Linked DNA regions of Homo sapiens. The protein of the gene in region 5 purifies or fractionates together with the protein of the main gene of each other region. This does not show direct contact. Each region holds a gene or a part of one and is shown on either strand. Other genes may lie near its edges.

Region 1 (4,267 bases), on a different chromosome or scaffold from region 5:
GAGACCAGCCTGGGTAACAACATAATGAGACGTTGTCTCTACAGAAAATAAAAAAAAATTAACCAGGCATGGTAGTGCATGCTTGTGGTTCCAGCTACTTGGGAAGCTAAGGTGGGAGAGTCACTTGAGCTCAGCAGGTCAAGTCTGCAGTGAGCCATGATCACACCACTGCACTCCAGCCTGAGTGACAGAGTAAGATCCTTTCTAAAAAAAAAAGTTCTGATCAAAATCCCAGCAGCAGTCTTTTTGGTAGAAATTGACAAGCTGATTCTAAAATTCATATGGAAGTCATATGGAAATGCCAAAGACTTAGAATGACCAAAATAACTTAAAAAAAAAATGAGAGTTAACAATACTGATTTCAAGATTTATTATAAAGCTACAGTCGTCAGGACAGTATGATATTAACATTAAAATAGACAAATGCATCAGTAGGACAGAAAAAAGAGCACAGAAATAGAACCACACAAATATGAAAAACTGATTTTTTATACACGAGAAAAGGCAATTCGGTGGTGAAAGTAAAGTCTTTTCAGCAAATAAGACTAAAACAATCTGATACCTTTATATGAAAAAAATGAACTTGTATCCATACTTGCACCATATACAAAATTTAACTTAAAATGAATCACAGACCTAAATGTAAAACATAAGACTGTAACACTTTTAGAGGAAAATCTTTATGACCCTAGGTTAGGTAAAGATTTTTCAGATACCACACCAAAAGCATAATCCATGACAGAATAAAAATAATAAATTAGACTTCATCAAAATTAAGAACTTCTCTTTGAAAGGCACTGTTAATAATAAAATAAGCCACAGAGGAGAAAAATTTGCCAATTATATATCTGAAAAAGCACTTGTACCCAAATTATATACAAAGAACTCTCAAACTCAACAATAGTATACTAACACAAATTTTTTTCTTTTCTTTTCTTCTCTTTTTTTTTTTTCTGGAAACAGGGTCTCACTCTGACGCCCAGGCTGGAGTGCAGTGGTGTGATCATAGCTCACTGTAACCTCAGACTCTTGGGACTCAAGTGATATTCCTGCCTCAGCCTCCTAAGTAGCTGGAACTACAGGTACAGGCCACCACGCCTGGCTATTTGTGTGTGTGTGTGTAGAGGCATGGTCTTGCTATGTTGCCCAGGCTGGTTTCCAACTCCTGGGCTCAAGCAATCCTCCCATCTTGGCCTCCCAAAGTGCTGGAATTACAGGTGAGAGCCACTGTGCATGGCCAACAATCCAATTATTTAAAAGGGCAAAAGATTTAAACAGAAAATTCACCAGATATACAAAGGGCAAATAAACACATTAAAAGATGCTCAACATGGGCTGAATGTGGTGGCTCGTGCCTACAAATCCCAGCACTCTGGGAGGCTGAAGGGGGAAAACTGCTTGAGGCCAGGAGTTCAAGACCAGCCTGGGCAACATAGACAGAACTCATCTCTACAAAAAAAAATTAAAAATTAGCCAGGTGTGGTGGCATGCACCTATCGTCCAGCTGAGGTGGGAGGATCACTTGAGCACAGGGGTTTGAGGCTGCAGTGAGCCATGATTGTGCCACTGCACTCTAGCCTGGGTGACAGAGCAAGACCCTGTCTTGAGAAAAATATATATATGTGAGGTTTGCAGCCAGGCGCAGTGGCTCATGCCAGTAATCCTAGCACTTTGGGAGGCCAAGACAAGTGGATCCCTTGAGCCCAGGAGTTCAGGACCAACCTTGGCAACATGGTGAAACCTCATCTCTACCAAAAATACAAAAATTAGCCAGTTTCAAAACCTGGTCTCAAAAGAAATAAATAGATTAAATAGATTAATAATAAAAATAAAATTTAAAAAGACTTAAAGGCCAGGCATGGTGGCTCACACGTGTAATTTCAGCTCTTTGGGAGGCCAACAAGGGCAGATCGCTTGAGCCCAGGAGTTCGAGACCAGCCTGGCCAACATGGCGAAACCCCATCTCTACTAAAAATACAAAAAATTAGCCAAGTGTGGTGGTGTGTGCCTGTAATCCCAGCTACTTGGGAGGCTGAGGCAGAAGAATCACTTGAACCTGGGAGGCAGAGGTTGCAGTGGGCTGAGATCGCACCACTGCACTAAAGCCTGGGCAACAGAGGAAGACTCTGTCTAAAAATATACATATATACATACATAGGTGTGTGTGTATATATATATACATATATACACACATATACATGAGGTTCATATCAATCACAAGAAAGAGCTTACCATCTTCAATGGCATTTTTGATAGCACGAAGTCCATCTCTTATGGCATCCTTGACTTGTGTGAGAGTATGCTTATTTGGTCCTTTAACCAACAAGGTAACAGAGCAAGGGTTAACACACTCCTCAATAAAAGTGAACTTTTCTTCACCCTAAAGGGTGGCACAAAAATATATAACTTTAATATTTGATGTCATTATAAAATCAACAATTTATACTAGAATACAATCTTCATTTGAATTTTTCTTATCAAGCATAACTAAGGGAGTTAAGTTATATCTGAACTCTTAACAAACATTTAGGTAAATAAACTGTAAAATCTGTTCTGTGAATTAGATCTCAAAACACAAAACATGAAATAAAAGGTCAAGTAGTATTTTTCTTTAAAAAAGGGGGCTTAGTATTCACTTTATAACCACTGTTCATAGAAATACTCACTAATGTATACTCATACACAAGACCAGCATGTCCCAAGCAATCTACAGTGAGATCTTCAAAAGAATTCACGGCCATTCCACCACAAGCAAGAGAGAGTCTGAAATTACATATATGTCACCATAGCTTGATTATGGAGAACATTAATACTAATTTCTCAGAGAGAAGATATCTAATGCAGAAGACTGTATTGTTACTGTATTGTATTGTTTTGGGTTTTTAATTGTCTAATAAAATTGTCTATATTTATCGAGTACAACATGATGATGTTTTTAAATATGTATACACTGTGGAATGGCTAAATTGAGCTAATTAACATACATATTGCCTATGTGAGGCTTGATTTAGCCATTTGTGTGATAAGAACACTTAAAATCTACTCTCAGCATTTTTCAAGAATCCAACACATTGTGCATTCTCGGGTGGGTTTGCAAAAGATTTTTAAAAAGAACAATATATTGTTATTAACTACAGTTGCCATGTTGGACAATAGATCTCTTGAATTTATTCCTCCTAACTAACTGAAATTTTGTATCCTTTGACCCACATATTCCCAGTGCCCCTCCCCTCCCACTGCCCCAGCCCCTGGTAACCGCCATTCTACTATCTACTTCTATGAGTTCAACTTTTTTAGATTCCATATATAAAAGTGAGATCATGCTGTATTATGTTGTATTGTTTTGTTTTTAAAATCTGTTTTAAAAAGATAAAAACTTTCCTTATACTTCAACAAAGTTCTGCAGTAGGTTAACAACCTTGCTTTTTGACAGTTCAATTATTTACTGAAACTAAAAACAAAATTTGGATTTTTTTATGCCACTGTTTTGTTCAACAACATTTACACATAAGCTAAAAGGAAAACACATGGGATAGTTTCCATTTACTCTGTTAAAAACTTAGGATATATAATTATCTGCAAGCTTACCTTTCCATATTTCTTCTTTTTGCTCTGCGAAGAGCTACTATTCCATGTTTTGCAAGAGAATCTAAGGAAAATGGATCAATTCCCTATAATCAAATTAACATAAAAATTATAAACATGTTTTAAACCAGTATTTCTCAAACCTTTTGGTCTCAGCACCACTTTACTCTCTTAAAAATGATTAAGCACCCAAAAAGCTTTTGTTTATGTAAGCTCTATCTATAATATTTGTATTATAAAAACTGAGAAATTTTTAAAATATTTATTAATTCATTTAAATAATAAGCCCATTTTATGTTAATACACATAACATTTTAAATGAAAATTTACTACACTTTTGAAAACAAAAATATATATAGTGAGCTAGCAGTGGCATTACTTTACATTTTTGCAAATCTCTTCAATGTTTATCTTCATAGAAAACAAATGGATTCTCATATCTCATTCAGTATTCAATTTGGAATGATATGTTATTTTGGTTCAAGTTTATGAAGAAAATCTGGCCCCACACAGATAAATATTGTAAAGGGAGTAATATTTTAATAGGCTTTTCAGATAATTATGGAAATTCTTCTTTGATACTATACCAAAACTCAGTAAGTAATAGTTTCTCAAAGGTTAGTTTCACTATGGAACCATAGCAATGAACTTTTCATACTATCTCACATTAAAACACATTGCT
Region 2 (4,267 bases), on a different chromosome or scaffold from region 5:
CCCCCCTTCCCCAGCCGTGAGCTACAGGGGCACAGATGGGCCAGGGTCAGCATCACCCTCAGGCCAAGCCCAGGGCTTGGCCCCAGCTGCCCTGATAGGACTCATCATGTGAATGAAGGAAGAAATGGGATTGAGAACAATTAGGGCAATGCCACTGGCCAAGGAGGTGCTGGCTTTGGAGGGCCACAGCCTGTGTGGGGAGGAGAGCTCAGGACTCCAGCCAGACTAAGGGCTGTGAATGCCAGGCCAGGGCCAGCCTCATCTCTGAGCGGTCAAAGTAACCTGTGCCGCAGCAGCACAGCCGGGTGATCAGGAACACGTGGAGACCCCAGTGCCCACCTGTCCACCCCCGCAGTTTGAGCCATCAGGGCCTCCACTCCTGGCCTGCCGCACTTACCTATGTGCAGGCCCTTGGCATGCTTCCTGACAGCTCGCATCCACCCTGTGGGACATGGAGGGGACAGTCAACACAGGCACGTGCGCCCAACTGGAAGACCCAGCCTACCTGAGGAGGAAAACGTGGCAGCCGCACAATACGCAATGGGAAGGGCAGGGGCGGGCAGGCAGGTGTGAGAACCCACCCCTCCCTGGCCCAGGGCTGGCTCTCCACACCCTCTTCCTGACCCCAACTCTCCACCCTTCTGGCCAAGGCCCCCTTCCTGACCCTGCAGAGCAGCTCTGAGCTTACCCTCCCTGAGCTGGGACAGCTCAGAGCCTGTGGCCGGCCAGGGGAACAGGCAGCTGCATCCTAGGGCCTGGGGACGGTCAGGGTTTCTCCGAGCTGAGGGATGGCCAGACCCGCCAGGCCCTGACACTGGCTGACATTCCATCACCTCCCCACGGTTCTCTCAGTGTCAGGGAAAACCACTCCTGCTCTCTGAACTCCAAAACTGCCTAACACTTCCCCTGCCATTTCTCTCTGTCCGAGCCCAAACGCAAGGCGCAGCCACGTAAACTCGGGCAGACGTCATCAGGTCAGGATGTGCCATCAGGAGGCAGCCTCCGCCTGAACCCCACCTTCCTCCCTGGCATTGAATGAAAATCGCTGAGAGAGGGACAGAGGAGGAGAAGCCAATGGCCCGTGCCGTTTGCTGCCCAGAGGCTGCCTGAGTCATTGTAGAGCCTGTCCTGCACACGCCTGTGTGCAGCCCGGAAGTGCAAGGGAAGGCCACCCTCACAGCCACCTGGACCACACGCAGACCTGGGCGGAACACTCTGAGGCACCAACTTGGCCTTGCAGAGGGTCCCACCGTGGCGACCACCTCAGAAACCCCCTCTACCAGGCCTGCCCTGCTCCACACTCACCTTCCCACTTAGCACACCAGCCCACACCATGGGCCTGCTCTGCCGGCTGGGCCCCAAGGGGTGAGGGCGTGGTTCTCACAGTCACCACACTCAACACTCACACCCACTGTCTCACACTTAGACATGTCCACACCGACAGTCACATTCAACACACTCACAATCTCTTCTCTCCCACATCATCAGTCTCACACTTACACACTCACATTCACACTTAAATCACGCAGAGACACACACACACTCCCATACAGAGACACCCACAGAGACATACCTACTCACACACACACACCCCTGCTCTCGCACTCACACTCTTTTCAGCCTGTGGGGCAAGCACAGTCAAGCAGGAAGGATGAGAACCTTGGTCCACGTCGTGGAGGCCCGTGACCTCAAACATCTCACGGCCACGTCTCTTCAGCTGCAGCCAGACGGGTGAGATCTGTGTGAACTTGCTCCCAAAGACCTTGGTGACATCGTAGCCATGGCTGTTCCACTGGCAAAAGATGGAGACATCAGACGGAGGACAGGTGAGTGAGCACCTGTCTCACCATGGTGCTGTCATTCTGGCGCCTCTGGACGTGCCCAGGGCTGGCCAGCGTAGACAGATACCAGCCCGGACTGACATCAGCTCCTGGCCTGGGGTATCCTTCTCCTACTCTGGACTGCCACTCACAGCCTGGGACCCAGGCCACGACATCCCTTTCACCAAAAGTGACTGGTGCTTGTCTTAAGCCCCACCTGGAGCTAGTGCACACCACTGCTGCAGGCTGGCAGCTGGGAACAGCAAGAGAAGAGGAGGCTGGGTGTGAGAACCCACCCCTCCCTGGCCCAGGGTTGGCTCTGCACATCCACTTCCTGACCCCAGACGACCTGCGAGCCCACCTCTGGATTCAGGGGGAACCCACAGAGATCAGCACAGCAAGCCCCTGGAGAGACCCCCAGGGTCTTACACTCTGACATCTCCAGAATGGCATCTCTCCCACCGTAGCCTCACAGCAGCAGCAGCTCCGGGAGATCAGAACATAGACCCCCATCACTGACTGGCCAGAAGAGGCCATCACGGGGCCAGGGCAGCCCACCTGAGCCTCAGGACCTCCCTCTGCACTGTGAGGGCCCCAACTTACTGGAGTGACATAGCCCAGTACATCCCCAGCAAAGTGTCTGTCCCGGGCCTTTGCCGAGCAGTAGCTGCGATGCTCAAGAACCACACTCTCAGCTTTGAGGTCCGTCACCACCAAACCCCGGTCTTGCACCGGCTTATCTGAAAACTGACTCTGAAATAAAAGGAGTGAGAGAAAAGCCTCAGTCATCTGTCCACAGTGTAGAGCACAGAGCCCCACCCAGCAAGTCCCTTCCATTCAGCCAGCAGCCGAGTCTCTGGATCCACACAGTGCTGCTGACCCGGAGACCCTGTATGTTGAGGATCGAGGCCACAGCAGGCAATTCAATTCAGAAGCACTCTGGCCGTCAACAGACACTGGCCGACGGTACAGGGCCTTTCCCACCCTTGCTCCGGGCTGGAAGGCAGGCAGGCAGACAGACAGTTATGGTGGCTCCCTCCTTGCATGTGAGGGTGGACGGTCTGCACCAGCTCTGGCCACTCGATACCCATCCGGGCACTCCAGGGCCATACGCTTTGCTGGACAAGAACATGCCAGGTGCGCTGGGTGCATTGGCTCACGCCTGTAATCCCAGAACTTTGGGAGGCCGAGGCAGGTGGATCACCTGAGATCAGGAGTTGGAGACCAGCCTGGTCAACATGGTGAAACCCCATCTCTACTAAATATGCAAAAATTAGCCAGGCATGGTGGCGGGCACCTGTAGTCCCAGCTACTCGGGAGGCTGAAGCAGGAGAATCGCTTGAACCTGGGTGGCAGAGGTTGCGGTGAGCCAAGATCGCGCCATTGCGCTCCAGCCTGGGCAACAAGAGCAAAACTTCACCTCAAAAAAAAAAAGAAAAGAACATGCCAGGCACACGCCACCATGCTGGCCAACCACTGCCTGCCACCGCCCCCGCCAACGTGACCCTGCTGGCCAACCACTGCCTGCCACCGCCCCCGCCAATACGACCCTACTGGCCAACCACTGCCTGCCACCACCCCCACCAATGCAACCCTGCTGGTCAACCACTGCCTGCCACCCCCCTGGCCAATGCGAGTCTTTTCCTGCCATGTCACACCTGCCCCTACTCCACCTCTGCTCCTGGAAACCTTCCATCCAGTTATCAACTTGTCTCTTCTGTCCACACTCTGTGGCCCGGCTCAGCCTCCCCTTGACCTCGCCCCAAGCGGCCCCGTGAGAGAGAGATGTCCACTGCATGGTTTATTTGCCCCCATACAGCACAGAGAAAGCATCTGCCAGTCCAGGACTAGGTCACAGTTACAGTCCTGTGGCAGGGTCTGGCCAGCGGCATGGGGACTGCTGGGGCTGAGAGGTGGTTCTATGAGTTTACACCCTTGAAGGTGCAATCCCCAGGGCCATCCCAGGGGAACGTCCCAAAAAGCATGAGGCAAACACAGCTCAAGGCCATGATAAAGACAGCAAGATGAAGATGCAGGTGATATAAACGAGAGGTAGAGCATGGAAACTGGCAACTGGCACATAAAACAAGCCCCACGTGGGGTGAGTGGGGAGGCACCCTGCTTGCCCTCAAAACCTGGCTCCAGAGGCTGCTCACTCAGAGGTGCTGACTGGCCAGAGCCCCAGAGCCACACAGGCCACCCACCGGCTGCGGGCTCATCAGGTGCCTTTGTGAGGAGCCAAGCCCCTCGAGCCTCCTGGCTCACAGGCCCCAGTGGACAGAAAGAAGAGGATGATGGATCAGCCCTCAGCCAGTACAGTCACCTCAAGTCCCCAGGCCACCCTTACCTTCTCCAGCAGCGTCTTTGAGGCGGCTTTTTTGGCATCTGACTTTGACAGGGTAGTGTGAACAGGGCTGCAGGCCAGGGCAAGCCAGAGGAGGTTGAAG
Region 3 (4,949 bases), on a different chromosome or scaffold from region 5:
CCCAGTCTCTGTGCTTATAGCCGTCAGAGCCCTAAAATACCTTGTAAATTATCCACCTGTCCCCTCCACATTCGAATGTCAGGTCCTCGAGCACAGGGACCACGTCTGTCCTGTTCACCCCCATGTTCCCAGTAAAGCCTGCGCCCAGAACATGTTACGTCCAGTAAATGATTACTGAATGGATTAACATGGATGGCCTCACATGGAGCTGCCTTCGCTCAGATCCCAGTGCCATCCCTGCTCCACGGTGGAAGCTTGGACAACCTCACTTGGCCCTAGCATCCTTACCTGTGAAGCAAGAGGCACGACACCTGCTTTGCAGGTTGTCATGAGGATGCTACGAGATGCTGTGCTCAGTGCCTGACTCAAGCTAAGGGCCACTGTCCCAAACGTGCTGCATGTGGTCCTGTCTTAGGAGCACAGCCAGTAGCTTGGAGCTCCCTGTGGGCAAAGATCAGCCCAAGGATCAGAACAAGGATTGTACCTGGCCTGAGCCCCTCCCCATCCCATTCCACAAGGAAAGCATGTGCACGTGTCTGCCAGCTGAATACAGTCGTGCTAAGAACACTGCCTGGCCGGGCGCGGGGGCTCACGCCTGTAATCCCAGGACTTTGGGAGGCCGAGGTGGGCAGATCACTTGAGGTCAGGAGTTCAAAACCAGCCTGATCAACATGGTGAAACCCTGTCTCAACCAAAAATACAAAAATTAGCTGCATGTGGTGGAGTGCGCCTGTAATCCCAGTTACTCAGGAGGCTGAGGCAGGAGAATCGCTTGAACTTGGGAGATGGAGGTTGAAGTGAGCTGAGACTGTGCCACTGCACTCCAGCCTGGGCGACAGAGCCAGACTCCATCTCAAAAAAAAAAAAAAAAAAAAAAGAACACTGCCTGGAAAGCTTACTCTCCTCCCTTCCAAAATGTCAGGATCAGCTAAAAAAAAACTGTCCCTTATACAAAGCCCTTCAGGGCCTCTCCAGCCCCCATGTGCTCCCTGATCTCCATCCCAGAGCCCAGGCTGTCCTCCCTCCCACATGGCAGCGTGCCCAAGGCCTTGCATTCCAGGATGACTCCCCACATGTGGGAGGCCCTCACCAAAGCCCTTGGTCTGCTTCAAGGCAGCTCAAATGCACTGTCTCTCTTTTTTTTTTTTTTTTTTTTTTTGAGACAGGGTCTCACTCTGTCGCCCAGGCTGGAGTACAGTGATTTGATCTTGGCTCAGTGCTACCTCCACCTCCTGGGTTCAAGCGATCCTCCCGACTCAGCCTCCCAAGTACCTGGGACTACAGACCTGTGCCACCACACGTGGCTGATTTTTCTATTTTTAGTAGAGATGGGGTTTCACCACGTTGGCCAGGCTGGTCTCAAACTCCTGACTTCAAGTGATCCACCTGCCTTGGCCTCCCAAAGTGCTGGGATTACAGACATGAGCCACCTGGGCTTCCGGCCCAGGAAACAGTTTCTGATTGACCCCACCTGCCTCGGCTCACGCTGCCCACATTATTGTAATTAGCTCTTTCACCCGTGTTGCCTGGGAAGCATGCACGGGTCACTTTTCAGCAGAGTGATCAACTCATCCCAGTTTCCCAAGAACTTCCAGCTTAGCGCTGAAGCCCCTTGTCCTGGGCAGTCCAGGCCAGTTGGTCACCCTACATTTCAAGCATCTGTGTGTGTGTGTATAATTAAGATATTCATCCTTTCTCTTGTCTCTCCACGGACACTCCAAGCCTCTCCAAAGCTAGGCAACTGTCTCACGTCTCAGTTAACCTGGGTATCCCCTCTCTACTCTGTCCCAAAGTCTGATGTGGAGTCTCAAGTAGAACCTGTAGCCTTGGCTTGGGGCCCTTCCTGCCGAGGCAGACACTGAAAGCCTTGAGATCCTGGCCTTCACAGGGGAAGGGGGAGGGGCAGAGGGCAGGCTGAAAGAACAGAATGGCACGGAGGACTGGAGCTATGGGTGAGGAGGGCATGGCAAGGCAGGTAAAGTTACAGAAAGCGGAGGAGGTGGGTAGCCTCGAGATGTAGGATGTTTGGGATAGAGTGAAGATAGACGAGAGAGGAGGGAAGATGAAGGAGGACAAAGTCATTTTGCAGGTCTACATAAGCCCCCTGGAGTGCTTGGCCAGGGAGGCAAAGCTGACCACCTGCCACTGACCACTCACCACCAATGTGCGTTTTACACCCCTGTCACACTGAGGACGGGAGGGGAGGGGAGCCTCAGGTGTAGGTGAGGAAGCAAGTGGGAAGTGTCCAGGCCAGATGGCTGGGAGCCCCTTCCCCATAAGGCAACCAGGAGTGCTCTTAAAACCCAAAGCGGGTGAGGCTTGCCCTTAGGACTGGAGCAGCAGGTGAATGATGGACTATGAGTAAGTGGCTTACCTTTAGCAGGTGTTGGGCCGTGTAGAAGCCAGCTGGGCCACTGCCCACCACACAGATCTGGGGGGTCTTCTCCTGTGTGGAGAAATGGTGGCAGAAGCCTGGGGCCAGGCAGAGGAGAGGGAAAAGGTCAAAATTAACTTCTCTCCCCAGTCCCAAACCAACCTGAATATCCAACAGAAGCTGGAACTTCCCAAGCTTCACCCTCACCTGCATCCTCCTTCTCTTGTTCCTCAAGGCTTTGGCATTTGCAGGGTCTCTTACTTCATCTGAACCCCCAAAGGCTGTGGGTTCATCCAGAGCCCACATCTCACCCATGAACCTACTACACCACTGCCAATGGCCTGCCCAACAACACTTCATTCCCTATCCAATCGGCTAGAATCCCACATCCTTCCAACGGCCTCCATATCATCCCAATCTCGCCCCCGTGGGTCTCCCCACGGTGTCCCTCCTCTAACCCCTCTCTCTCTCCACAAAACGCTATATTGCCCATATAGACCCGTCTTATTCCTACAGATCCCTGTTTCGACTCAGACTTTCCTCTCGCCCCACAGACCTCCGTATCATCCTCCATTCACCCCGTCTCACACCTGTAGATCTCAAAGTCTCTCCTTTTCACCTTTGTTGACCTCCGTCTCTAACCCTAGAAGCCTCACATCTCACGCACAGATCTCCGCCCACCCCCGTACACCACCGGGATCTCGCCAGCAGGAAGACACCCCTTCAGTCTCACCCTTCTCCAGCCCTGCCCCAGCTCTGCTCCGACCCCTACTCAGCGCTCGCAGGCCTCCCCGCGCTCCCATCCAGCCCCAAAGGCGCCCTGCTCCTACTCGGGGTGCTCCCGGCGGGAGGCAGCCGGGTCCGAGGCCACGCCGACCAGCCCCACCAGCGCCAGCAGCGCGAAGCCATGGCTGGGAGCAGCAACCTGCAAGTGGATCTGTTCCTAGCTACTGCTCCGCAGGGCAAGCCCGCTCCTGCCCGGGCCCGCCCACAAGCGAGGCCCCGCCCCAAACCCCGCCCCCTGCGCTCCGGGAAAGCGGAGCCTTGCGGCTCCACCCCGACTCCCGAGAGAATCCCGCCCCCAAAAGAGAGACCCGCCCTTAACTACGCCCCACCGTCGAAGCCCCGCCCCTCGGAGCATCCGGGGTATACGCGATTTAATACATTTCTCCCCAGGCCTCACCTTCCCTCCAAATCCCGGAAGCCTAGGGTTGGAAGAGAGCGAATCCCCATCGCTGTTTCAGTCCCTCCCCAAGGAAACAGCCACTAAGAAAGGAGCTTATTTTACTTAGCCGCGCCCCTCTCGGGAGGCTCTCGTCGCTCACTGATGACGCAGACGCCCTTGCCATTTGATTGCGAATCCTCCCACGTGACTTCGTCCTAGCCAATCACGAGTCCGGCTCCAAGCGAGCCTTCCCGCCGTTGGGAAATAACCAGAGTGCGGAAGTCTGGGGCGAGGGAGCTCCTTCCCGGAGCCCAGCAGCCTCCTTCTTCGACCCCGGGTGTTGTGCCGATGTAACCCCTCAAATCCCCGTCTTTGCCGGGCCAGGGAGAATATTAAACCCTGGAAAGCTCGTCCCACCTCACCTCCTTTCCCATTACATAGGTGAAGAAAAGCGGGGCGGGGCAGTGGCTTACGTATGGTACTAAGGACAGAGCGTCCGACCCCCGTGCAGCCGAGCCGGGACCAGAGTTGAGGTACTCCCCTCGGGTTCAGAATTTAAGGGGGCTCCAAAACACTCAGTAATCAAGATAAATATAATACTGCAACGTTTTAAAAGGTCAAAAGTAATGCAAAAAGTCTATGATCAAAATGTTTTTAAAAATAAGGACAGGATCCGTAGTCACAGCTGACCCAATAAGCCTAACCCCTCTTCCTTTTCCCCATGGGCCCTCTTGTCAAATATTACTTCCTTGGAGAAGCCTTTTCTCTGACCCGTCCCCTCCCAAGTTCCAAGGAGTTAAAGGCCTCTCATTCCACAGCATCTGACCTTATCCCATCATGACTTACTACACTGGTTGTCGTTTTTAATGAGATTTTAAATTCAATAATAACATACAGAAAAGTGCACAAATCATGAGTGTACAACTTGACAATATATCACAAGGTGTAACCATATAACCACCACCCAGATCAAGAAATAAAACATGGCCAGTATCCCAGGAGTCCTCTGTGCCCTTACTGGTCACTTCCCCTCCCTCCCACTGGTAAGTAAATGCTGTCTGCTTTCTAATAGGTCACTGTGTTTTATGCCTGTCCCACTAGACCAGGAGTAGGCAAACTATAGCTTGCAGGCCAAATACTGTCCACCAGCATGTTTTGGATGACCAACAAGAATGGCTTTTACTGTTTTTGTTTTTTTGGAGGTTTTGGGGTTTTTGTTTTTGGTTTTGATTTTGTTTTTTGAGACAGGGTCCTGCTCTGTCACCCAGGCTGGAGTGCAGTGGTGCTCACTGCAACCTCTGCTTCCTGGCTTGGCTCAAGCGAGCCTCAGGCCTCAGCCTCCGGAGTAGCTGGGACCACAGGTGCCTGCCACCACGCCTGGTTCATTTTTGCATTTTTTGTGGAGATGGG
Region 4 (4,267 bases), on a different chromosome or scaffold from region 5:
TTTAGTTTTGGATGTTTGGCATTTGAGGCATCTGTGAGTTTTCCAGGTAGATTTATCTGGTAAACTGTTGGATATATGGATTTGAGCTGAGCTAGAGATAATTTATTCATTCATTCATTCCGCAAATATTTATTAAACCCTCTTAAGTGCCAGGAATTATTATATATGTATTGGGGATATTGTAGTAAATAGACAAAATCGCCCTGCCCTCAGAGATTATTTTTATAAAGTGGGAAGATAGACAATAAACAACAAAATAATTTCAGATAGTCACAGTACCCTGAAGATGAAACAGGGTAATGATACAGAGATGGGGGGAAGTGAAGGAGGGATTAGACAGGTGACCAGCGGTGGCCTTTCTCAGGTGGTGATACTTGAATCATGAGAAGGAACTAACTAGGTTTAAAGTCAGGAGGAAACATTTAAGGAAGAAAGAGGAGAATGTGTACAAAATTTTTGAAGGCCTTAAGGGCCCACTGAAGTCTCAACTACATTTTGTACCCCAACTTTTTGTCACTCCAGTGTGTTGGGTCACCCCAGAGCAAGTGCAGATACATCTTTTGATGGTTGATTTGAACATGAATTGAGAAGAGGGCAGAAATACCCAAATGTCTAATCTTTTCCTCTCTCTCTTTTTATCCTTCTTTGGGTTAACCTTTCCATATCTCATGAAATAAGAACGGATTCTCAATCTAGTGTTAAAGCAAATATTCAGAATATTCCCTGAATTGTGTTTGCCTCTCTGAAATGCAAAATTAATTCTACTTCAGTCCTTTTTTACCCAAATATATATTAGTATTTCCTAAATGTGCCTTTGTTGTTCCCTACAATATTAAGTGCAGGTTCTAAGGAGGAATTTGGTTTTCCCACCTATTTTACATTATTATATCTGTAAAAATCCAATAGCAATAGAACACAGAGACACAAATAGAACTTAGGAGGATTCAGAGCTCCGCTTGGTTGAACAGAGAAGTTCATTAAACCAAGCAACTCATTCTGTTTTATAACAGATGATTTACTGGCTAACACATTGGAATGTGTGCCTGACTTTTATTTTCTGGTGAGTCTTCCAGTGATAAAACCTAAAATCAGTGGTAGATTTTAAAACCTAAAATCAGTGGTAGATTTTCCTAGAGCAAAGTTTCTCAACCTCAGCCCTACTGTCATTTTGGGCAGGGTAATTCTTTTTGTTCTGGGAGACTGTCCTATCCATTGTAGGATGTTAAGCTGCATCCCTGACCTCCACCCACTAGATGCTAGTTATATGCTCTCTTCATCTGTGACAGCCAAAAATGAGTATAGTTATTGCCAGTGTCCACTGAGAGTCAAAATCAATCTTGGTTGAGAAACTACTGTTTAGAGGAATTCTTAACTGTTTTTCTGAAGACACATACCTCATGCTTCAAGGGTATAGCCTACTGACCCTTCAGTAGGCAGCAAATTGAAGGCCTATTAGTAAAGTGAATTGATTTCTGTCACCCAGATCCTACTATGATGAGAGGAAGGCTGGCTACTTACTCGAGGGACAACTTCTGTCAGCCATGTGGTACTGCTGGAGGTGACACTGGCATCTTATACGCAAATTTAGTTATTTGCATGGTGGAGTATTGAGAGATAAGGAAAATTATGAAAACTATCGTATGCTAGAGAATGTATCACTTAGTATTTAACATACACCAAATTATGTTTTGAAAAAGTGAGTAATGAGTGATTAGGTGTGTATGTGTTTTTATATATACATGCACATATATGTATTTATAATGTTACAGTTCCCTAATTATTTGTATGTTGGCTCTTTGGGATTTTGTGTATGCTTCAATTTTCTCCTTAACTAATCACTGTCATTATATCCTCTAAGTTATCTTTGTCTGGTTGATTACTGCATGAGATTTCACTAAATGAATTGGAAAAAAATGTTTTAGCTGTTTTGGAAGATGTATTTGCATCTTTTGTGTTGTTACCTACAGTTAATAACATACTTCCTGATATTCTGTAGCATACAGATGTCAGCTCTTTCCAGACAATGGACCAAATGGTGTCAAATATGAGAAACTATATGCAGAAATTAGAAAGAAACTTCGTAAGTACTAAAAACAAAGCATTGAGAACATTGTGTATACTTTGATATATTCTATTTCATAGTGGCTTTCAAACACTTTTTTAACCATAGTGGTTAAAAAAGATACCTTACATGATTAACCCAATAAGCAATATTTGTATACTTTATAAATATATTTGAAGCAAAAGTTTCATGAAAAAATGACTATACTATTTACAGTATATACAGTTATTTTCTAGTCTATTTCATGTATTAAAAATCCTGGTTACAACCCACTAAATTGAGTTCATAACCTCCAAGTTTGAAAAATAATGTTAACTTTGAAAATTTTTTAAAAATTGGAAAAAAAATAACCTCAAAAACATTGATTCTATTGAAAGTCACTATTGTAAATGAACATTTTATATGAATTTGCATAATTTTATTATTAATAACCTGTCTACTTAAAAGGATTTGTAGCATCTGAAGAGTTTCAGGGTTTTATAAACGACTCTGAAAACAGAAATTTTAGGAATAATGTTTAGGTATAGTTCCCTAATAGTCCAAATAAACTAGTACTATAATAATACTCTCTATATTAACATCAAAACCAGTCACTTGATTTGATCTGAAGAAGACCCATAACATTCTAGTCATCCAGTTTGAATTCTATGGATCATTTCAGAATGCCCAAATAATCTAGGGCATTATTGGTTTTAGTAATGTAGCAATCTGGTACCTACAGGAGGAGGTACGAAACTTGATGTATAACTAATTGATTGGCTTAATGTTGGCAAGATTACACACAAGGGTCAACCACTGACTATAGAAGTATCACAGGTTTGGGGGCATAGCATCTTTATTGAAATCTAAGCCACGAGCACCCAAAGACTTAAGGATCTCTGAGTGAGTCACTTATTAGTCTTTGTAACGAGAGTGGGATAATTGTACCTAAAATGGACGACCGTTAGGACCCTCTAGGGGTGACTTTTTTTGGGCGGAGGTAATTTTTCAAGTCACTTCTCACTTGAGAACCTGGGTGTGCCTTTGACTACACCATATTGGTAGTTTAGTATCCTTAGTAGAACTTACAGCTAGTGTTGTTACTTATTTGAACTCTCTGGCAATAATTATTTATATTTGACTCGACTGAATTTACAATTTGTTTACCTGTAGGGTCAACTTTCAGTGGATCCAAATGGACATTCATTTTGTTCTTCCTCAGTTATGACTTATTCCAAAATAGGAGATGAACCGCCAAAGGTTTTTCAGGCCTCAACTCAAACTCGTCGAGCTCCAGGAGGAGTAAGTTTTCTATAAGCATTCCTAAAGTTTTATAAAGTTAGGGGATGATAGACTGTCTAGATCAAATTTTAACTATTAAAATTTAATCTGGTACAAGATGGTGGGGGGACAGGAGGGAGGTGTGGGGGTTGGGGGTAAGGTAGTCCTCACTGTGGAAACCATTAAAGCTCAACTGTATTTACTTAGTTTGTGGCATTTTTTTTGTAGCCCCCCCACCCCCCCGTGAGGGTGCCTTTTTTCATGTAAATATCTATGGATGTTTATTACCTTTACATGTTGACAAGGTAAACAAAACACGAAAAGAAGCCTTTGTTTCATGAAATTAATGTCTATTTTTAAGTTTACATTTGAAGTGAATTAATTTTTTAACTCATGAAATATTTCAAGTGTACAGAAAGGATATAGAGAATAACATAATAAGTGCCCATATTCCTGCCACCCAGTTTAGTCATATCATAACATTTTTCTCTATTTGCTTCAAGTTGTCTCTTGCTTTGTTTTCTTTTTAAGCGAAAATGTACAGAGGCAGTTAAACCTTCTAATACATTCCTCTGAGGTCTATTTTCCCTTTCTCCCCTTCTCAGAGATTACCATTTTCCTGTATCTGGAGTTTATCATTTTCACGCATGTTTTTACAATTTTATTACTTCACGTTTCTGTCATTAAAAAAATGGATTATTTTCCAGATTTCCCAACATTACATAAAGGGTATCATATTGCATATGTCCTCTGCAACTTGTCTTTGCTGAGTAATATGCTTCTGAGATTTATTCAGCTTGATACATGTGGCCCTGGTTTCTTTAACTTCTATGTAGTATCCAAAATATGAATATATTATGATTAATACGCTTCTGAGATTTATTCAAGTTGATACATGTGGCCCTGGTTTCTTTAACTTCTATGTAATATCCAAAATATGAATGT
Region 5 (4,267 bases):
ACAACTAGTTACCACAGATTAACAAGTCAACACTGTAACAGCACCACACCTTAGGAGCAGGCAACACCAATATTACCTTCAGTTGTTTCCAACACAGAAACAGAAGGAAAATTCCCAAGTGCTTTTTATGCAGCCAGCATAGCAGTGAAACAAAACTCAACGAAGAAAATACACAGATATTAACGTGAAAATTTTCAGTAAATGACTCGTAAACCGAATCCAGCAGAGGACTATTCCACAATCAAGTGGAATTCTTTCTAAGGATGCAAACGCTGGGCCAATATTTAAAAAGCTATTAATGTAACTGACCAAAGAGATCAAAAGAGAAAAATCCTAAAACCAAATTATCAATTCCATGGATATAAAAAGGCATTTGAAAACTTAATCTCTCGGCTGGGTGCGGGGGCTCACACCTGTAATCCCAGCACTTTGGGAGGCCAAGGCAGACGGATCACAAGGTCAGGAGATCGAGACCATCCTGGCTAACACCCTGAAACCCCCTCTCTAAAAATACAAAAAATTAGCCAGGCGCGGTGGCAGGCGCCTGTAGACCCAGCTACTCAGGAGGCTGAGGCAGGAGAATGGCGTGAACCCGGGAGGCGGAGCTTGCAGTGAGTTGAGATCGCGCCACTGCACTCCAGCCCGGGTGACAGAGCGACTCTGTCTCAAAAAAAGAAAAAAGAAAAGAAAATTTAATCTCCATCTTCCATTTCAAAAGTCTTTCCTCACTTGGCAACAGGCAGACCCTGAAGCGCTGGCCTGGTCCATCTGTCCCTCAGACTGATGGCACAAAAAGCCAAAAGCCCACAGTCTCTTTGCCCCTCTGACCTGACTGCACTGATCTCAGGACTCCAGGAGAACCTCCCAGAACAGAAAGGAGGCACGCATATCCTTGTGTGGCTTACAACCTGCCCTGCTTGCTTCCTGGTTTTGGTGGTAAACCGAAGGGAAAGCAACTTGAAACAAGCCCAAGTCATCATTGTCACCCACCTTCCCACCCCGACCGTCCTTTCTGGTCTGGCCCAGCTCACTTGGCAGCAGTGGGCTCAAATAGGAGTTGGCAGATGTAGCCCTCACTCTGCCCACACCTGCAGGCCCTGCTTGCCGCTGGTCCATCTTAGTCACATGCCTGCCCCCAGACCTACACATGGGCAGAGCCACCACTGCCTAGAGGTTCACTGTTCCCATCACAAGGCAAGTTTGCCACATGGAGATTTGACCCACACAACAAAGAAGATCTATTAATGTCAAAAGTTCAAAGAAACATGATTGCAGGAGAGAAGTCATACTGTTTGTATGCACTTTGAGATAGTCACAAAGAACTACTGTTGTGTTAACTGACAAGTATTCATTAAACTCATATTGAGAAAATGGATTTCTACTGAGCAGTAAACTAAAAGTGTGCAAAAGCATTTCAAATATCATTTGAAATTTCATGCATTTCAAATATAATTATAAAAAAATCCAGAATCATTACCATGAATTTGCTCAGCATTTTGCGATCTTAACGACCCTCCGTGTTGGTCTTTTATTTGCAGTTGCAGTACTGCCCTTTATCTTTCAAGTGTCATTACCTTCACTCAGCGGTCAACGATCAGATCTCTATCCTTTCATGTAAAGTGTTCTCCATGGGATTTGAATGTCACTGACAAACAAACAAAAAAAAACACTATCCTTTTCAGTTTTCTTGTTTACTGCAATGATGGTTCTTCAAACTTAAGAAAGTCTTGGTCCATGATACTATCCGATAAAATCCAAGTAGCAAAAGTCAGCTACTTCTTTTAAGATAAAGAAGAAAATCCAATAATATATTTGACTACCTTAGAGAATCAATTTCATTCATTTTTCAAACCTCAGAAAATAATATTTCAGGGAGGAGCCAAGATGGCCGACTAGGAACAGCTCCGGTCTAGAGCTCCCAGCGTGAGCAACGCAGAAGACGGGTGATTTCTGCATTTCCATATGAGGTACCGGGTTCATCTCACTAGGGAGTGCCAGACAGTGGGCGCAGGTCAGTGGGTGCAGCGAACCGTGCGCAAGCCGAAGCAGGGCGAGGCATTGCCTCACTCGGGAAGTGCAAGGGGTCAGGGAGTTCCCTTTCCTGGTCAAGGAAAGGGGTGACAGACAACACCTGGAAAATTGAGCCACTCCCACCCAAATACTGCGCTTTTCCGACGGGCTTAGGAAACAGCGCACCAGGAGATTATATCCCACACCTGGCTCGGAGGGTCCTATGCCCACGGAGTCTCGCTGATTGCTAGCACAGCAGTCTGAGATCAAACTGCAAGGTGGCAGCGAGGCTGGGGGAGGGGCGCCCGCCATTGCCCAGGATTGCTTAGGTAAACAAAGCAGCCGGGAAGCTCGAACTGGGTGGAGCGCACCACAGCTCAAGGAGGCCTGCCTGCCTCTGTAGGCTCCACCTCTGGGGGCAGGGCACAGACAAACAAAAAGACAGCAGTAACCTCTGCAGACTTAAATGTCCCTGTCTGACAGCTTTGAAGAGAGCAGTGGTTCTCCCAGCACGCAGCTGGAGATCTGAGAACGGGCAGACTGCCTCCTCAAGTGGGTCCTTGACCCCTGACCCCCGAGCAGCCTAACTGGGAGGCACCCCCCCCGTAGGGGCAGACTGACACCTCACACGGCCGGGTACTCCTCTGAGACAAAACTTCCAGAGGAACGATCATACAGCAACATTCGCGGATCACGAAAATCCGCGGTTCTGCAGACACCGCTGCTGATACCCAGGCAAACAGGGTCTGGAGTGGACCTCTAGCAAACTCCAACAGACCTGCAGCTGAGGGTCCTGTCTGTTAGAAGGAAAACTAACAAACAGAAAGGACATCCAACCAAAAACCCATCTGTACATCATCATCATCAAAGACCAAAAGTAGATAAAACCACAAAGATGGGGAAAAAACAGAGCAGAAAAACTGGAAACTCTAAAAAGCAGAGCGCTTCTCCTCCTCCAAAGGAACGCAGTCCCTCACCAGCAACGGAACAAAGCTGGACGGAGAATGACTTTGACGAGTTGAGAGAAGAAGGCTTCAGACGATCAAACTACTCCGAGCTACAGGAGGAAATTCAAACCAAAGGCAAAGAAGTTGAAAACTTTGAAAAAAATTTAGACGAATGTATAACTAGAATAACCAATACAGAGAAGTGCTTAAAGGAGCTGATGGAGCTGAAAGCCAAGGCTCGAGAACTATGTGAAGAATGCAGAAGCCTCAGGAGCCGATGCGATCAACTGGAAGAAAGGGTATCAGTGATGGAAGATGAAATGAATGAAATGAAGCGAGAAGGGAAGTTTAGAGAAAAAAGAATAAAAAGAAATGAACAAAGCCTCCAAGAAATATGGGACTATGTGAAAAGACCAAATCTGCACCTGATTGGTGTACCTGAAAGTGATGGGGAGAATGGAACCAAGTTGGAAAACACTCTGCAGGATATTATCCAGGAGAACTTCCCCAATCTAGCAAGGCAAGCCAACATTCAGATTCAGGAAATACAGAGAATGCCACAAAGATACTCCTCGAGAAGAGCAACTCCAAGACACATAATTGTCAGATTCACCAAAGTTGAAATGAAGGAAAAAATGTTAAGCGCAGCCAGAGAGAAAGGTCGGGTTACCCACAAAGGGAAGCCCATCAGACTAACAGCGGATCTCTCGGCAGAAACTCTACAAGCCAGGAGAGAGTAGGGGCCAATATTCAACATTCTTAAAGAAAATAATTTTCAACCCAGAATTTCATATCCAGCCAAATTAAGCTTCATAAGTGAAGGAGAAATAAAATACTTTACAGACAAGCAAATGCTGAGAGGTTTTGCCACCACCAGGCCTGCCCTAAAAGAGCTCCTGAAGGAAGCACTAAACATGGAAAGGCATAACCGTACCAGCCGCTGCAAACTCATGCCAAAATGTAAAGACCATCGACATTAGGAAGAAACTGCATCAACTAACAAGCAAAATAACCAGCTAACAGCATGACAGGATCAAATTCACACATAATATTAACCTTAAATGTAAATGCACTAAATGCTCCAATTAAAAGACACAGACTGGCAAATTGGATAAAGAGTCAAGACCCATCAGTGTGCTGTATTCAGGAAGCCCATCTCACGTGCAGAGACACACATAGGCTCAAAATAAAAGGATGGAGGAAGATCTACCAAGCAAATGGAAAACAAAAAAAGGCAGGGGTTGCAATCCTAGTCTCTGATAAAACACACTTTAAACCAACAAAGATCAAAAGAGACAAAGAAGCCCATT
Region 6 (4,267 bases), on a different chromosome or scaffold from region 5:
ACTTAAACAGCCATCATTTATCCTAACATTTTTCTCCTACTTATCCTTTATACTGGAACCTTTTCATGTAACAGAACCCAAACTAACCTATTTCTTTCTTGAAAATGCCACTGAAATCTCTCAATTCCCTGTCCTAACTTAGAAAGATACTATGAAAAGAAAGGAGCCGATTCCTGAAGACCAGGCATATGTTTTTTAAAAGTTGTACCTACAGTTATAAGTGAGGCAGAGCTATTAAATGAAGTTAATGTTTATAAGTTTTCCATATAAGAATTAACAGTGACTACTTAAATAGCACAAATTGTTAAGTTCAAAGAGTACTCCCCTAAGCAAAACTAATGGGTACCTTGCTTTTTAAACCTAGAATATACTGTGAGAATTTTCTATGTTATATATATATATATATCACCAAGTTAAAAACCCAAGCTTCCAAATAATTTCTAGAGTATGATACCATTTTTAAAAGGTTGTATAACTTATAATACCATTATAAAAAGCTATACTGACTACTTCCTGTAAAATAACTGCCAATTTCAAGGAGTTTATCTCATCGCCCTGTTTCCTTCACAGTATTATAATCTGTAATCGCCTTACCCCTGCTTGAATGTAAGCTCGCTGTCTGACAGCAGGGAAGTTTTGACTTTTGGAGAGAACTTTTGTCTTTTCACTGCTATACTGCCAATCCCTAGAAAGTATCTCTAGCACATAGAAACTCAATAAATTTGTGGAATATGCATAGGGAAAAGACCAGTAGGCAATGTTAACCTTGACAGTGTTGGTGATTTTTGTGATTTTTTTTTTAAGATACCTTTTTCCGTTTACCATGTTTTCTGTTTAGAGCATACATTAATTTTATATTTAAAGCAAAAGTTATTTCAAAATAATCATTTGAATTAACATTTTCCATTTTGTTAAAATGCTTTTAATCTTAATTTTAAAAGATCTTAAAGATCTTCTTCAATTACATCAAATTTCAGGTCATCAAGAACTAGCAACAACATTAATTTCAAAGCAATTATACAAAAATAAATCATTAAAATATATGTGTTATGATCTAAGTATAAAGTCTTATCTAAATTGTGAAAAAATACTGAACATTAAAGCTACATCAAGCTATGCTGTGTAGGGAATTTCTGAATATGAGTCTTCTTAACTCCTGATCTCAGTACTGACTTCAAACCTCATCCAAAGACTCAGTTTACTGACTGGAGCTTTGCCACTCTCTGGACCCAGCAACTCTCATGTTCTCAGAACCACCCAGAAAGAAGGCAGAAGCTCTGCTCACCCTCCATCATTTGTTATGCTATAGGAGAACACAGAAAAAACAAACAGGCAGATGAAGCTTGTAGGGATTTCTTAGTGTAAGGTTAAATGTAAGCTTATAGCATCAATACATTTTTTACTATTAACTGTTTTATTATTTAACTAACTTAGCTTCTTAGTATGTGCTAAAGAGACCAGTGCTTTAGGCTTACTCTTCACCTGAACCATTTATATTTGCTGACCTTGTGATCCCAGACTGGCCACTCCACCCAAGGCCAGTTATCCTAAAAGTACAGACAGCACTGGTCACTGATGGAGCTAGGGGTGTACATTTAATAAGAAGACTTTGTAATGAGATCACCATATTCACTACCAACCAGTACTGGGAAAACATCATGGCTCATGGTGGAAACACAACAGAAAGTTCTTGTTAAGACTGTAATGTATTTTTTTAAAGAGGCTCACTCATCAATTTGACATTGATTCTGCAATATGTAATACAATCTAATTCAAGGTATGTTCATAATGCATGATAATCTTTTTCTTAACTCAAAGAAATAAAGAGAATTATTGTCAATTAATTAGGATTTATGGCTATCTCTTGTTTCCCAACCTTTTCATAGTCATTAATTTTTAATAACATTACATAAAACTATACGGAATGCTTTTCTTAAGTTTTTGTCTGAACCATTTCATGCAAAAGGGTTGGTTATAATTTTATTGCATTTGGAGAATATGTTTCAGCCTAACCCAAAATAAAAACAATGCAGTAAATACAAAATTCACTTTAGCAGGTAAGGCACCTGAAAGAGATGAGAAATCATCCTCCTAAGGAGCTGACACCGAGGTGTAAGGAGAGGCCTTAAACTGCTGATCAAGAGAAGCACACCCTGTGTATTCAAATGCCTGATGCAGAAAACAAACAGTATTTTCACGTATCACTCTCAAATTAAAAAATACAAAAACAGACATTCAGAAGTGCCAGCTTAATCTGTGATGGAGCAGCTATTCACATGGGCAGCTCCAAGCAGCAACACTCCAGAAAAACAGCAGGGATTTAACAATACTTAATAATTCCAAGGGGAATCTAGCTAGCTTTCAAATAACCTATATAAAATTTGTAAACTGAGAAATTCACGTGAATATCAGAGGATTAAAATCTAAAATACCTACAATCTAGGAGATAAGTTATACAATTCAGTATAAATACTATGGTTTAGATGCTTTTTCAAAAACCTCTGCTCCACAACAAAAATATAATCATGATTTTTGGCACAGAATGTTAGGAGTATAAAAAGTCAGTAGTCAACTATTTCACTTTATTTCTACAAATTACAGCAGATAAATCAATGAGAGAGAGAGAGAGAGAGAGTGTGTGTGTGTGTGTGTGTGTGTGTGTGTGTGCATACACATATATACAACTGCTTTCAGGCTAAGAATTTAATATAATAAATTCCAAATTTATCAAGTTTGCATTTTTTGCTTTGCTATAATGCATCATACATACTGCATCCCAACGTGTAATGAAACAAGCCCTACACCTACTATACAATAAAAATTTACCTAGCTTATCTTAACAACCATCTGCCTGTGGGAAAGAAAAGCTTCTGTGAATCAATTACTATCCAGAGGCAATCATATTTTCTTAAGGAAGTAAAAAGTCACGCTCACACGTGTAGCTCAATACCTTTCCAGGGACCCGGAGACTCTCTATGGCACCAAGATCACTGAGGCTTTCTTGAGGGCTTTTCAGACCCTTAAAAAAATAATAAGATGAGGAAAATTTTAATCATGCTGAAGAATTATAAAAGGATAGAATACACCTACTGAAACAGAAATGACCACTTTAAAAATAGAAATTTTCCTGCTTCAAAATATGGAAGATATATTCTAAAAGCAATCATCATTTAATACATATAGTACTATTATTAAATCAGAGAAGGGTGTACTTTTGGTATTTTAAAATAAAAGAGTATTATACGGCAACTTCACAACTAATGGTAGAAGTCCAACCCATCTATGATTTGAAAACAGCCAAAAGTAAAGAAACTTACATAACAAAAAGCATTCTATAAAAGCCACTTGTATATACAATAATAATTACTAAATCCATCAGGAAAAAAGTCCAAGCAATAGTATTATGATTCACAGATACAATATACTAACCAACTAAGCTAACATATAAGTAATCCCTTCATTTTACTTGATTATTTCCCACCAATGTATCCAATTCATGCTGCATAAATTAAGATTGAAGTCTCATATCTCACTGTCTTTTACCTGTCCTTTAGTTCTTTGGTGCCCTGTACTTTCTATATTCACATCAACTGAGGGATTCTGAAAGCTTTATTTGTACCAGGGGAAATTATTAAAATAGAAAGAAATCAGCAATTTACATTTTCTTTAAAATCCTCTTTTTAAAAATAGGCTATTCGAAGCAGACATTTAATGTCCCTGCAATATTAGTTTTTAGGCAAAATTAGCTATTATTAATTTGAGGAGAGATTTATGATACAAATTGTCCTTTAGGTGCCCTATATTGGGGATCCTTAGTAACCAAAATATATGGTATGCTTATGTTGACTATTTGAGACTCAGAGCAGAACTTGCTTATCTTTAAACTACAGAGATGTGTATTTTCTCTTCCCTGTTGTAAAATACCACTAGTCATATCTAAAATTTTTTATTACAAAGTGCTCTGCCTCAACCGCAAGTTTTCCATTACCCCCAGAATATCTAACCTACCCACCCTTCTCTCCCCGTCTCCCTCTCTCAGGCACACTTACCACTCCAAGAAATGAGAAAGCAATACATCACTTTCAGAATTATCTCCTCTACAAAGTCTTCCTAAATCCCTATGCTCCAAAGAACACAGTATTTCTCAGTATAACCCTTGGATCATGTCCATCAACACCACCCAGGGAACTTGTTAAAAGTAAGATTCCTAGGCCCTAAAATAAACCTAATGAATAGGTTTTTCTAGATTTGGGCCAGGAATGTGCAT
Region 7 (4,267 bases), on a different chromosome or scaffold from region 5:
CTACCTCCACCTCCCGGGTTCAAGCAATTCTTGTGCCTCAGCCTCCGGAATAGCTGGGATTACAGGTATGCACCACCATCCCTGGCTAATTTTTGTATTTTTAGTAGAGACGGGGTTTTGCCATGTTGGCCAGGCTGGTCTTGAACTCCTGACCTCAGGTGATCCGATGGTTTCAGCCTCCCAAAAGGCTGGGAATTACAGGCATGAGCCACCGTGCCCGGCCCCTCTTGTATCTTATTAAATGCCCATAAAAAAGATGCAATTGAAATCTAAAGAGGAATAAAGTTGAGATTTTATAAAAGAACTATAATACTAACCACATTAAAATATAGGCTTAGAAATAAAACATTTAAGATCAATTTTATATCTTTTATGCTTATATATGGGAACATTAAAATATGTATTTATACACATATATTTGTTAAATTTAAAAATGGCATGGTCAAAATACATTGTTGGTGATGAATCTTTTCTTAAGTAAAACCAGGTATTTAATATCCAAGTTTCTTGCTCGCACAATCAGAAGCTGAACCATAAAGTCTTCCTGTAATACATTATAAGGAATTATCAAGTGATAAAAATCTGTTTTAGGCCAGGCGTGGTGGGTCATGCCTGTAATCCCAGCACTTTGGGAGGCCAAGGTGGGTGGATCACCTGAGGTCATGAGTTCGAGACCAGCCTGGCCAACATGGTGAAAACCCATCTCTACTAAAAATACAAAAATTAGCCGAGAGCGGTGGTGGACGCCTGTAATCCTAGCTAACAGGGAGGCTGAGGCAGGAGAATTGCTTGAACCCAGGAGGTGGAGGTTGCAGTGAGGCGAGATCATGCCACTGCACTCCAGCCTGGGCAACAGAGCAAGACTCCATCTCAAAATAAAATAAAATAAAAATAAATTTAAAAATCTTATGTTTTTTAGCTATTTTTACATTTTATAATATGTCAGTAAAACTTCATGGAAATTTTTTTTTTTTTTTTTGAGATGGAGTCTCGCTCTGTTGTCCAGGCTGGAGTGCAGTGGTACCATCTCAGCTCACTGCAAGCTCCACCTCCCGGGTTCGAGCCATTCTCCTGCCTCAGCCTCCCGAGTAGCTGGGACTACAGGCACCCACCATCACACCCAGCTAAATTTTTGTATTTTTAGTAGAGACGGGGTTTCACCGTGTTAGTCAGGATGGTCTTAATCTCCTGACCTCATGATCCACCCGCCTTGGCCTCCCAAAGTGCTGGGATTACAGGTGTGAACCACAGCTCCCGGCCGGAAAAATATTTTTGACAAGAGTGGAAATTTGGCTTTCATAACAGAACTGTGTAGTAGAGGCAGCATGTCCACTTATAGCAAAGTTATTTTCCATATACTATAGGTCTCTGAAAGCAGCAAATGGGAAAGGAATGCCTCAGAACAACGCTATGCAAGGAAAACTGCTGTATTACCTTTCTCCACAGAGGTATCGGGTACTGGCTCATGTGACTGCTTTATTGGTGAAGAAGCTTTCACTGGGGCTGGAATGGTCAAAGGCAAAGATGGAGGGGCATCAGAGATGTCAGACTCCGAGGACTGAGGATAGATACAGTCTTCTCCGAGAGAATGGCGATGGAGTTCAACATCCACTACCTAGACAATTGGGCAACAATCAGGCTCATGAGTCCATCATCAATGTCACAGAAAGCTCAAGTCCCGTCCAAGAATGTAATCTCCGGGATGTGAGAGATAACTTCTAATCACACTTCAAAGGCAATTTCAATCTGAAGAACTAAAGGATTTATTCTAGAAGGTAATCTAATCTGGCTTAACAGACACATACCTCAGTGAAAATCTAATCTGGTTTAACATACAAATCTCAGTGAAATTATTCACAAAATTGGGACCTCTTGATTTTGCTGTTGCTACTCCTTACAACGCTATTCCTCCAAATCTTTGCATGGCTGCCTTTCTCACCAGCAGGTCTCAATGAAGTAGCACCTTCTCAGAGAGACCATGCCTAACCACCCAAGAATAAGCTACTTCCTTATCCCCCAGCTACTCTTATCTTCACAGCACTTATTTGTAACTGAAGTAATTTTATTTGCTTTTGTGTTTACTGTCTACCCTCCCCATTTTCAATGCCACTAAGAATTTGACTCTGAAGGAAGAAGCTACCGTGTTCATTTCTGTATTCCCAGCACCTGGACCAGCGCTCAATAAGTACCTTCTGATATAATACAGCAGATTTCTCTAGACAGAGTAAGATTTAATTAGTGAACTCTGATTAAATGGCTATTGCTGATTATTATATGATGAATACAAAAAAAGGGAGAGAAGGTGAAGAACAAAGTTGGAGGTCTCAGACTCCTGATTTCAAAATTTATTACAAAGCCATAGTAATCAACAGTATGCTGCTGGCATAAAGACAGACATACAGACCAATGGAACAGAATAAATCCTCACATATATGGTCAAATGATCTTTGACAAGGGTCCCAAGACCATTCAGTGGGGGAAAAGACAGTATTTTCAGCAAATGGTGCCAGGGAAACTGGATATCCATATGCCAAAGAATGCAATCGGACCCTTACCTTACACTATATACCAAAATTAACTCAGGATCAAAGAACGAAACATAAAAGCTAAAACAATAAAACTCCTAGAAGAAAATGTAAGGGAAAAGCTTCATGACACTGAATTTGGTAATGGTTTCTTGGACACGACACCAAAAGCACAGGCAACAAAATAAAAAATAGACAAACGGGACATCAAACTTAAAAACTTCTGTGCATCAAAGGACACAATCAACAGAGTGAAAAGGCAAAAATATAACACGGAATGGAAGTAAATATTTGCAAATCATCTATCTGGTAAGGGGTTACTATCCAGAATATATGAATAACTCCTGTCACTTAGCAACAACAAAAACCAAACCACCTAATTTAAAAATGGGCAAAGACATTTTCTGAATGTCTCTGAATAGACATTTCTCCAAAGAAGATAAACACATGGTCACCAAACACATGAAGGGATCCTCAACATCACTAATGATTAGAGAAACACAGATCAAAACCACAAGATATCACATCACAAACAACAGAATAACTACTATAAATTAAAATACAAAAAAAATTAACAAATGCTGGTGAAGACGTGGAGAAACTGGAATACGTGTGCACTGTTGGTGGGAATGTAAAATGGTGCGGCTACCACGAAAAAATATAGCAGTGGTTCCTCTAAAAATAGAATTACCATAGGATCCAGCCAATTCCATTTCTGGGTATATACCCAAAAGAACTGAAAGCAAGGATTTGAATAGATACCTGTACACCTACGTTCATAGCAGCACTATTAACAACAGCCAAAAGCTGGAAGCAACGCAAGTGTCCATCAGCAGGTGAACGGATAAACAAAATGTGGTATATACATACAATGCAGTATTATTCAGCCTAAAACAGGAAGAGGGGCGGGGCACAATGGCTCATGCCTATAATCCCAACACTTTGGGGGGCCAAGGCAGGCGGACAGCTTGAGCCCAGGAGTTGAAGACAAGCCTGGACAACATAGTGAGACCCTGTCTCTACAAAAAATAAACAAGTAGGCCGGGCGCGGTGGCTCATGCCTATAATCCCAGCACTTTGGGAGGCCGAGGCAGGCAGATCATGAGGTCAGGAGATCAAGACCATCCTGGCTAACACAGTGAAACCCCGTCTCTACTAAAAATACAAAAAAAAAAAAATTAGCCGGGCGTGGTGGCAGGTGCCTGTAGTCCCAGCTACTCAGGAGGCTGAGGCAGGAGAATGGCGTGAACCCGGGAGGTGGAGCTTGCAGTGAGCCGAGATCGAGCCACTGCACTCCAACCTGGGCAACAGAGCGAGACTCCATCTCAAAAAATAAATAAATAAATAAACGAGTAAGTAAATAAATTAGCTGGTCATGGTGGCACACGCCCACAGTCCCAGCTACCTGACAGGCTAAGGACAGATTACTTGAGCCCAGGAGGTCAAAGCTGCAGTGAGCCGTGATTGCACTCCAGGCTGGGTGAGAGAGAGCAAGACTCTTTCTCAAAAATAAATAAATAAAAATAAATTTTTTTACAAAGGAAGGAAATTCTGACATACGCTACAACATGGATGAAATCTGAGGACATTATGCAAAGCGAAATAAGGCAATCCCAAAGAGACACATATGTTATGATTCCACTTATATGAGGTACCCTAGAGTAGTCAAATTCACACAGACAGAAAGTAGAGCAGCAGTTGCCAGTGCTGGGGGGGCGGGAGGAGTGGGTGGTCATTTTTTA

Evidence for each region.
Region 1: the proteins of EIPR1 (region 5) and CCT6B purify together in Homo sapiens (affinity purification with mass spectrometry; 3 studies listed by BioGRID and IntAct, with this or other methods). This does not show direct contact.
Region 2: the proteins of EIPR1 (region 5) and CHID1 purify together in Homo sapiens (co-immunoprecipitation; one large-scale study listed by IntAct). This does not show direct contact.
Region 3: the proteins of EIPR1 (region 5) and FDXR purify together in Homo sapiens (affinity purification with mass spectrometry; 3 studies listed by BioGRID and IntAct, with this or other methods). This does not show direct contact.
Region 4: the proteins of EIPR1 (region 5) and MLF1 purify together in Homo sapiens (affinity purification with a luminescence readout; one large-scale study listed by IntAct). This does not show direct contact.
Region 6: the proteins of EIPR1 (region 5) and VPS50 purify together in Homo sapiens (affinity purification with mass spectrometry; 6 studies listed by BioGRID and IntAct, with this or other methods). This does not show direct contact.
Region 7: the proteins of EIPR1 (region 5) and YEATS2 purify together in Homo sapiens (affinity purification with mass spectrometry; 3 studies listed by BioGRID and IntAct, with this or other methods). This does not show direct contact.

Annotation. Positions count from the first base shown.
Region 1 is NC_000017.11:34,936,951-34,941,217, forward strand, and holds part of CCT6B (T-complex protein 1 subunit zeta-2), read right to left. Parts: intron 3,672-4,267; coding exon 3,589-3,671; intron 2,764-3,588; coding exon 2,667-2,763; intron 2,381-2,666; coding exon 2,233-2,380; intron 1-2,232. UniProt on the Homo sapiens protein: Component of the chaperonin-containing T-complex (TRiC), a molecular chaperone complex that assists the folding of proteins upon ATP hydrolysis.
Region 2 is NC_000011.10:900,539-904,805, forward strand, and holds part of CHID1 (chitinase domain-containing protein 1 isoform a precursor), read right to left. Parts: coding exon 4,168-4,267; intron 3,241-4,167; coding exon of another isoform or gene 3,166-3,240; intron 2,574-3,165; coding exon 2,424-2,573; intron 1,793-2,423; coding exon 1,660-1,792; intron 443-1,659; coding exon 398-442; intron 1-397.
Region 3 is NC_000017.11:74,869,662-74,874,610, forward strand, and holds the start of FDXR (NADPH:adrenodoxin oxidoreductase, mitochondrial isoform 1 precursor), read right to left. Parts: upstream 3,334-4,949; 5' UTR 3,284-3,333; coding exon 3,205-3,283; exon of another isoform or gene 3,108-3,204; intron 2,656-3,107; coding exon of another isoform or gene 2,537-2,655; intron 2,473-2,536; coding exon 2,375-2,472; intron 1-2,374. UniProt on the Homo sapiens protein: Serves as the first electron transfer protein in all the mitochondrial P450 systems including cholesterol side chain cleavage in all steroidogenic tissues, steroid 11-beta hydroxylation in the adrenal cortex, 25-OH-vitamin D3-24 hydroxylation in the kidney, and sterol C-27 hydroxylation in the liver.
Region 4 is NC_000003.12:158,594,866-158,599,132, forward strand, and holds part of MLF1 (myeloid leukemia factor 1), read left to right. Parts: intron 1-1,996; coding exon 1,997-2,080; intron 2,081-3,214; coding exon 3,215-3,343; intron 3,344-4,267. UniProt on the Homo sapiens protein: Involved in lineage commitment of primary hemopoietic progenitors by restricting erythroid formation and enhancing myeloid formation.
Region 5 is NC_000002.12:3,367,376-3,371,642, forward strand, and holds part of EIPR1 (EARP and GARP complex-interacting protein 1), read right to left. Parts: intron 1-4,267. UniProt on the Homo sapiens protein: Acts as a component of endosomal retrieval machinery that is involved in protein transport from early endosomes to either recycling endosomes or the trans-Golgi network.
Region 6 is NC_000007.14:93,238,618-93,242,884, reverse strand, and holds part of VPS50 (syndetin), read right to left. Parts: intron 3,020-4,267; coding exon 2,951-3,019; exon of another isoform or gene 2,935-2,950; intron 1-2,934.
Region 7 is NC_000003.12:183,749,421-183,753,687, reverse strand, and holds part of YEATS2 (YEATS domain-containing protein 2), read right to left. Parts: intron 1,616-4,267; coding exon 1,435-1,615; intron 1-1,434. UniProt on the Homo sapiens protein: Chromatin reader component of the ATAC complex, a complex with histone acetyltransferase activity on histones H3 and H4. YEATS2 specifically recognizes and binds histone H3 crotonylated at 'Lys-27' (H3K27cr).